Linked DNA regions of Homo sapiens. The protein of the gene in region 1 purifies or fractionates together with the protein of each later gene. This does not show direct contact. Each region holds a gene or a part of one and is shown on either strand. Other genes may lie near its edges.

Region 1 (4,283 bases):
TCACATAGCAACCATTCTGGCATTAACAGTAGATCCAATTTCAGACCCAATTTTCTTAACCACTATACTTTACAACTTTCCTTCTATCTTTATTAATAATAATCAGTTCTATGTATTTAGCACTTACCATGTTACATGGTGCAAAATATTTTACATTATTATTTCCCCAAACAGCTCATTTATACCCATTAGTAGGTATGATTTCCTCCATTTCCCATCATTATGTGACCTTGGATAAGATACTTGACCTCTGAAACTGAGTTTTCATCTATAAAATAAGGATGATCCGAATATGCAGGGTTTCTGTGACAGTTCTACAGACTATATGTAAATCATCTAGCACAGTGCCTGTGTGTCCTGGAAACAAAATGCACATGCCCTATCCTGAAATCATTTTTGCATGAATTCAATTTAATTCATTAAATATTATTTAGACAAGTGAATAGTTTGCAAGGCAGTATCTTAGGCAGAAATATCTGCCTGAACGCTGAACAAAATGCCTCAGATCTCTTTCAGCCTGAGCTAACTGGAAGCAACTCTCTTACAAAATGAACACAGGTTAGTTTTCAAAAGGAAGGAAAAGGGTCTCTCTGGTGGGCACAGCCTAGAAAGGCCAGATGTAGTCAGGGCGCCTCCAAAGGATGATTCCAACTGCCCAGATGCATGCAAGTGTACATTTTCCCGATAAAAAATCAGCACACATGGCTTAAGAAGTAGATTGTGATTTTTTAAATTGATGTATAACATACAATAAAGTACTCTAATCTTAAGTGTACACTAGTTGATTGTTTTTACATATGGATACACCTCTGTAACTCCACCCTGATCAAGACATGAAATGTTCCCCCTAACCCAGAGGGGTTTATAATCAGAAAAGAACATCTAAAATCAGAACTGAAAACCGGAAAGCAAGTAAAGAACTTCGAAAGCTGGGCAACTGGGAAGCTGGATTTGGGGAAGGGTATTAGGCAAGAATAAGACAAACCGGACTTGTCTTCATTTTAATGGTGAATGTAGAGTACTTCTACGTGCTCACATTCATTACGCCCGTCGATCCTCACAATGACTCTGCGGTATAGTAGAGACTTAATACCATTTTGCATGTGAGGAAACAGAAACTTGTTCGGGGTTTCCGAGGAAAACACCTCCACCTGAAGCCGGAGAGAGAAAGAACTGGGTCTCCAAACCTTGCTCAGCAAATCCAGCCACGTGGCAGAGGGACAGGGAAGAGCCTGGCGTCAGGTTACCAGGCAGCGCCCCTCTGCTCGGCCCACTGGCAAGCGCTCCCAGCGGCAGGTATAAAAGCTCAGGCTGGCAGTCCTTGAACACTGGTGCTGAACCCCGCCGCGCGCGCTTTGAATTTCCCAGCCGCTAAGCGCCTCTCCTGGTCGGTGTCCCAGGCAGAAAGGTGCAGAGACCCATCTGACGCAGGACTCCAGGTATTTTAGGAGGGACCCATCGGCTTGCTTAATTCCCTGGGGGATTCGTCTGAGGCTCTTTGCCTCTGCAAGGGGAGAACCAGCCACAGTTTCCCGGAAGGAATAACAATTACTTTAATTCTAGCTGAGGACTAGACTGCTATGGTCCAAAGAGTCAGGAAACGATTGCAAGGCAATCGTTGGCACAGAGAACAGAGCGACTGAAGTTACAATCCAGCATTTTGTGAATCTCTGCCTTAGGCCAGCCAGGGCGGAGAGGGATTAAAACAAGCTCCGAAGTGTGTATTACAACACAGTTGAGATAGGACAAAAGAAAAACAGTTGTTTTTCGCTCACTGAAAAAATAGTTTGCAATAGCGGCAAGCAAGAGCAGTTTGCCTTGTTTCGGGAAAGGCAGGAAGAAACACCCCGAAAGTATTAATAGGAGAAAAGGAACAGGATTTACTGCACCTTGCGGGACTCGCTCTGACGATCCTTGTGCCTTTGTGCACTGCAGGTAGACAAGCTCCAGCAGAGAGTGGCCAGATGTGGTGCCTGGAGCGACTCCGCTTGGGTCCTGAGTGCCTTCGGCGGAGCGGAGACTGGCTTCTCCCGGGTCGGGCCCGCGGAGCCAAGTCTCGCACCACCGCCGCGTGCGCAAATGTGCTCACTCCGGACCGCATCCCTGAGTTCTGCATCCCGCCACGGCTCATGCCCCGCCTGGCCTTGGCTGCGCTCCGGAATTCTTGGGTCGAAGAAGCAGGGATGGACGAGGGCGCCGGCCGCACAGACTGGGACCCGCGCTCGCAGGCCGCGCTGTCACTGCCGCACCTGCCCCGTGTGCGCACCGCCTACGGCTTCTGCGCGCTGCTCGAGAGCCCGCACACGCGCCGCAAGGAGTCGCTCCTGCTCGGGGGCCCGCCCGCGCCCCGGCCCCGGGCCCACACCTACGGCGGCGGCGGCGGCCCGGACGCCCTCCTGGGGACCCTGCGCGTCCCGCGAGCTCCGGGCCCGGCGACCCCCGCGGCCCCCGGCTGTCCCCGCCCGCCCCAGGACGCGCTCGCCCGGCGGCCCCGCGGCTGCCGCCTCCTGCGCGTCCCCGACGGGCTGCTGAGTCGCGCGCTGCGGGCTGGGAGGAGTCGCCGCCTGACCCGCGTCCGCTCCGTCTCCAGCGGGAACGAGGACAAGGAGCGCCGCGCGGGCTCCCAGTCCCCGGCCCGGGCCCCCTCCACGAGCCCGCCGTCGTCCCGGGTCCCGTTTCCCGAGCGCCTGGAGGCCGAGGGCACCGTGGCTCTGGGCCGCGCCGGCGACGCCCTGCGCCTGGCCGCCGAGTACTGTCCGGGAACCGGGCGGCTCCGCCTCCGGCTGCTCCGCGCCGAGAGCCCGGCCGGAGGCGCCCCCGGGCCCCGAGCCGTCAGCTGTCGCCTCAGCCTCGTCCTGCGGCCGCCGGGCACCGCGCTTCGGCAATGCAGCACTGTGGTGGGGCGCAGCCGCAAGGCCTCCTTTGACCAGGACTTCTGCTTCGACGGCCTCTCGGAGGACGAAGTGCGCCGCCTGGCCGTTCGAGTCAAGGCCCGGGACGAGGGCCGCGGCCGGGAGCGGGGCCGCCTGCTGGGCCAGGGTGAGCTGTCCCTGGGCGCCCTCCTGCTGCTCTGAGGGCCCAGCCCTCCCCGGGGCGCTCTGCCCGGGGGACTCCGGACACTGACAGCCGCGTGGTACAAAATAAACGTGTATTTGTTGTTCTTATCAGTCCCGTTTCAGTACAACACTGGCAGAGATGATTCTAGATTAACTATCCCAGTAAAAGATATGATATTTTCCATAGATACCTCCAGAATTTTTTTCAGCAAATGGAATGGTTCTACAGTGTTTCCCAATATAGACAGCCATTTGCATACCATATGTACCACACACGCCTAGGAAATAATGAATCACATGAAGTGTTAGAACTAGAAAGTGTCTTGGCGATCTGTTTGCTCCAATCACCTCATTTTAAAATTGGTGCTTTCCACAACATGCATGGAGACCATCTTGGAGCATTTACTTTTGAAGCATTTTGTTTAAGACCCCGGATAAGAAAATGAGGGCAAAAGAGGTGAAGTGACTTGTCCAAGATCAACAGTGAATTATTAGTTGGAACGCCAGCCTGATACTCCTAGCTATATCTCACTGGAAAAGCATTGGAGAAAATGAAACCATTTTAATATTCTAAGCTTAAATAATAGTTATAATAGGCTAGGTGTGGCGGCTCACGCCTGTAATCCTGGCACTTTGGGAGGCCGAGGCGGGCAGATGGCTTGAGCCCAGGAATTTGAGACCAGGCTGGGCAACATGGGAAGACCGCGTCTCCATAAAAAATACAAAATTTAGCCGGACGTGGTGGCACGCACCTGTAGTTCCAGCTACTCTGGGGCTGAGGCGCAAGGATCACTTGAGCCTGGGAGGTCAAGGCTGCAGTGAGCCGAGATCGTGCCACTGCACTCCAACCTGGGCAACCGGAGTGAGACCCTGTCTGCAAATAATAATAATAATAATAAATAGTTTTACAAGCGTTAATTTATGTTTTAACCCCCAAAAGGAGGCACTGCTATGCCCATTTTACAGATGAGGATATTGAGGCACAGAATAAAGAGCAGAGCCAGAATTTGAACCTAGACAATCAGCATTTCACTCATTACTCTTATGTAGGTAATACCACAGTGTCTAAAGGGCTCGCTATTAAAGTTGCGAGTATTGTGCAACTTCTCTCTGAAACTGTTGACACTGAAGTTCGTGTCTACTTGTATTCCTCATCCTGCTTTTGGTGAAAAAACAAATTGCTTGAAATGAATAATTTATTATCTCATGCTAATAACTTCAGGCATT
Region 2 (3,810 bases), on another chromosome or scaffold:
TATTCTGCAGATTATTCTCAAGCCGTAAACCATAATGTGCTGTGACCCATAGGTTCAGGACTTGCTGGGGACCTGTTACTCCTTTTCTTTTTTTCTGTTTCCCTTTTTTGGAACTGGAATGTTTATCCTGTGCCCGTCTCACCACTATATATGTGTGTGTGTGTGTGTGTGTGTGTGTGTGTGTCTCTGTGTGTGTGTTTTGTTTTTTTTTTTTTAAGACTGAGTCTCACCCTGTTGCCCAGGGTGGAGTGCAGTGGCATGATCTCAGCTCACTGCAGACTCCGCCTGCCGGGTTCAAATGATTCTCCTGCCTCAGCCTCCCAAGTAGCTGGGATTATAGGTGCTCACCACCACGCCTGGCTGCTTTTTGTATTTTTGGTAGAGATGAGGTTTAACCGTATTGGCCAGGCTGGTCTCAAACTCCTGACCTCAGGTAATCTGCCTGCCTCGGCCTCCCAAGGTGCTGGGATTACAGGTGTGAGCCACTGCGCCGGCCTCACCACTATTTGGAAGGCACATAACTTGTTTCATTTCACAGGTTCACAGCTGGAGAGAATTTTGTGTCAGGTAGAATTGTGCCTTGAGTTTCAACCGTAACTGATTTAGATGATATTTAAATGAGATGTTGGACTCCGGACTTTTGAGTTGATGCTGGAATGAATTAAGACTTTGAGGGTTATTGGGATAGAATGAATTTGTTTGGCATGTGAAAAGGATATGAATTTGGGGGAACCAGGGGCAGAATGCTATGGTTTCAGTGTTTATATCTCCCCAAAATTTGTGTTGAAATTGTAATCCCCAAGATGATGGTATTAGGAAGTGGAGACTTTTGGGGAGATGATCTGGTAACAAGGGCAAAGTCCTCATGAGTGGGATTAGTCCCTCCTAAAAGAGGCCCCAGAGAACTCCCTTGCCCTCTCCATCATGTAAGGACACAGAAGACACCTGTCTTTTGACCAAGAAGTGGGCCCTCACCAGGCACCCAGCCTGCTGGCACCTTGATCTTGGACGTCCAGCCTCCAGAACTGTGAGGAACAGATTTCTGTTGTATAGAAACTGCCCGTCCTACAGCGTTGTGTTGTCACAGCCTCAGTGGACTAAGACTGAGACACCTAGCTCGTCCCGGACTGAGGCATCCCTGTTCTCCTGTGCTTTCAGAGTCGGGTTTCTCCATTCAAGGACATGATTTTATGCTTCTCTGAAGAGGATTGGTCCCTTCTAGATCCTGCCCAGACTGGCTTCTATGGAGAGTTCATCATTGGGGAGGATTACGGGGTCTCAATGCCTCCAAGTAAGACTTAACTTCCCCCCACACCTCAAGACCAGGGAACTGGGCAGGGGAGTTCTCACTTGGAGTAAGAGTCAACTTCGTCCCATAGGATCAGGGAAGCGGGGCCTGCATCAGATCTCTCTGTTCACCCCCAACCTGGACAGGAGGTCATTTGCACACAGCGGCCCTACAGGCAGTGTGTCCGATTGACCATCACCTGCTGTCTCGCCACATCAGGCTTATCAGAACCAAATAGAACATGTGCTGTATGTCCATTTCTCTTCCATCGTTCTTACCGTTTTGTCCCTTTATGTCTGCTTTACACCCGAAAGCCTCAGAGAGACCCCCAAGCCCATAGCTCTCCCTGCGTGTGCTGCCCCCACTGCCCCTGCACTGCCAGCTCTGGCCTTTTCACTTCTCGCCCCTGATGGTGCCATGCCCGCTGGGCATCCCTCCGCCTTCTCTCTTCTGGACCAGCCCTGGTTGCTGCAGGATCAGATTACTAATAAACATGTACCCTGCCTTTTTCTTTGAACAGACGACCTAGCTGCCCAGCCAGATCTCTCCCAGGGAGAGGAGAATGAGCCACGCGTTCCAGAGTTGCAGGATCTCCAGGGCAAAGAAGTGCCCCAGGTCTCCTACTTGGGTGAGTAATGATTCCAGAACTGAGTGGACAGAGTAGGGGGAAGGGTTGCTGGCAGCCGGAGGTGAGCCCACTCTCTGGCTTCTCTCTGCGGCCCCTAATTGCCTTCTTCATTTCCCCAGACTCTATGTGGGTCTTGCATGTCTTGCCTTGTCCCTGACTTTTCATAGAAAGAATGGAGGATCTTAATTTTGCCAGGCATTGGAATTGTACTCCCTTGGCCAAGGACTGGGAAATAATAGGAATGTCTTTCTCCTCTGCCTGTAAGTAACATCTGGTTTGTGCTGACAATGCAGCAGCCCCTCCAGGAGTGAAGTCAGATACTCATGACAAGCCTAGTTGCAGAGGGAGTGTCTCCTAACTGGGCACCGAGCGCAGCCCTTTGAGGTGCCTCACCTGTCTAGTCTTCCCATCTGCCTGGTACAGGGGTGCTGTGAGGACACTGGGGTGTGGGGAGGTGCTGGGGCTCAGCAGCAGCAGTTTCCAGCCCTCCTTCAGGCTGTGTCGCCAGCACTTGCACCCATGATCTCCATGCCATGGTGCTTCGAAGCATCTGCTCCTTCAGGAGGAAATAGCTTTGTACAGAATCATCAGCAGCTCCACACCTTCTTCCCCTTTGGGACCTAGAGCTGGCATGAAGCAGACAAGGTTTTGACACACCATCCCCACCTGGAACAAGCGTTCAGAGACTTGGTGTGGTGCAGTAGCTCCTGTACCATCTCTACCCTGTAGGCTCTGCACAAGCTGTTTGTGCAGGATGTGCGGAGTGTGCAGGAGCCTGTGGTGATGACTATAGAAAACCCACCACAGAAAGTGGGAATAAATATGGGGCTGGGGGAAGTGCTTGTCTCTGGCCATAGAGTGGGTGGAGTAGAACCCGGATCTACGTCGATTCTGTCTAGCGTCAGAGCTCATGTTTGTGGAGTTGGCCCATTTTGCCTTCAGGTTCATTCACTCAGCAGACACTTATTGAGTGGCCACCCCCTGCCAGTCCCCAGGACGGAGCCCAGGGCCGCCCCCAGATCGTAGCCTGGCATCTATTCGGATAGCACCCTCCCAGGTAGTGCTGTAGGTGCAAAACAAATCAATTTTTCCATTTCCTCCTCTGGAAAGACTCTCCAAGTCTCCAGCCATTCCAGGTAGAAGAAAGAAGGAAACGTGAGGAGCTGCAGGTGCCAGAGTTCCAGGCCTGCCCACAGACGGTGGTGCCTCAAAACACCTACCCAGGTAAAGAAGGGTCAGGGAGGTATGGGTTTGTCCCTGTGTGTCTGTGGTGTGTCGCATGAATGTATGTATGCATGTGTGGCATAGGGGATGGTTGTGTTGAATGCATGTGTGCGTGCATACACATGTGGTATATGTGGTGTGCTGCATGTGTGAGTGTGTGCATTCATGGGTGCACCTGTGTGTTGGGGGCATGTGGGTGTGTGATGTAAATGTGCGGTGGTGATGGCATGGGACAGTTAGGAACTGAACCCCTCAGGATCCCCGCCGACCTCTGCTGTGGTGTTCTTAGCTGCTTGCCCTGATTCCGTTGTGCTGGGGTCATTCTCCAGCTCACTCCCAATCCCAGGCTCACCCTCCTTGCCTTTCCCAGGGGCCGGGGAGGGTGTGTCAAAGCAGGGTGCTGCTGTAGTGCTGTTGGTGATGCAGTGAGTGTTTTTCTTCTCTCAGCATGGATGGCCAGCATCCTGGCACAGAATCTTGGAACTGGGATTAAAGAGCAGGTTTCTGGCATACTGAAGCTGCACAGGACTCTTGGAAAGTGTATGTTCCATTCCTGCTTTCAGAGAAATAGCCACAGTGTAGACTCTGAGTCGTCTTGGTAAAAGTCACCACTTCCAGAAGCAGAGGCTACAATACTGCCATCTTTCTCTTCTCAATACAAAACCCAAGC

Evidence for each region.
Region 2: the proteins of C2CD4A (region 1) and ZNF496 purify together in Homo sapiens (affinity purification with mass spectrometry; one large-scale study listed by BioGRID and IntAct). This does not show direct contact.

The regions. Positions count from the first base shown.
Region 1 is NC_000015.10:62,065,650-62,069,932, forward strand, and holds the start of C2CD4A (C2 calcium-dependent domain-containing protein 4A), read left to right. Parts: upstream 1-1,327; 5' UTR 1,328-1,439; intron 1,440-1,935; 5' UTR 1,936-1,964; coding exon 1,965-3,074; 3' UTR 3,075-4,283. UniProt on the Homo sapiens protein: May be involved in inflammatory process. May regulate cell architecture and adhesion.
Region 2 is NC_000001.11:247,307,805-247,311,614, reverse strand, and holds part of ZNF496 (zinc finger protein 496), read left to right. Parts: intron 1-1,158; coding exon 1,159-1,291; intron 1,292-1,808; coding exon 1,809-1,916; intron 1,917-3,026; coding exon 3,027-3,140; intron 3,141-3,587; coding exon of another isoform or gene 3,588-3,742; exon of another isoform or gene 3,743-3,810. UniProt on the Homo sapiens protein: DNA-binding transcription factor that can both act as an activator and a repressor.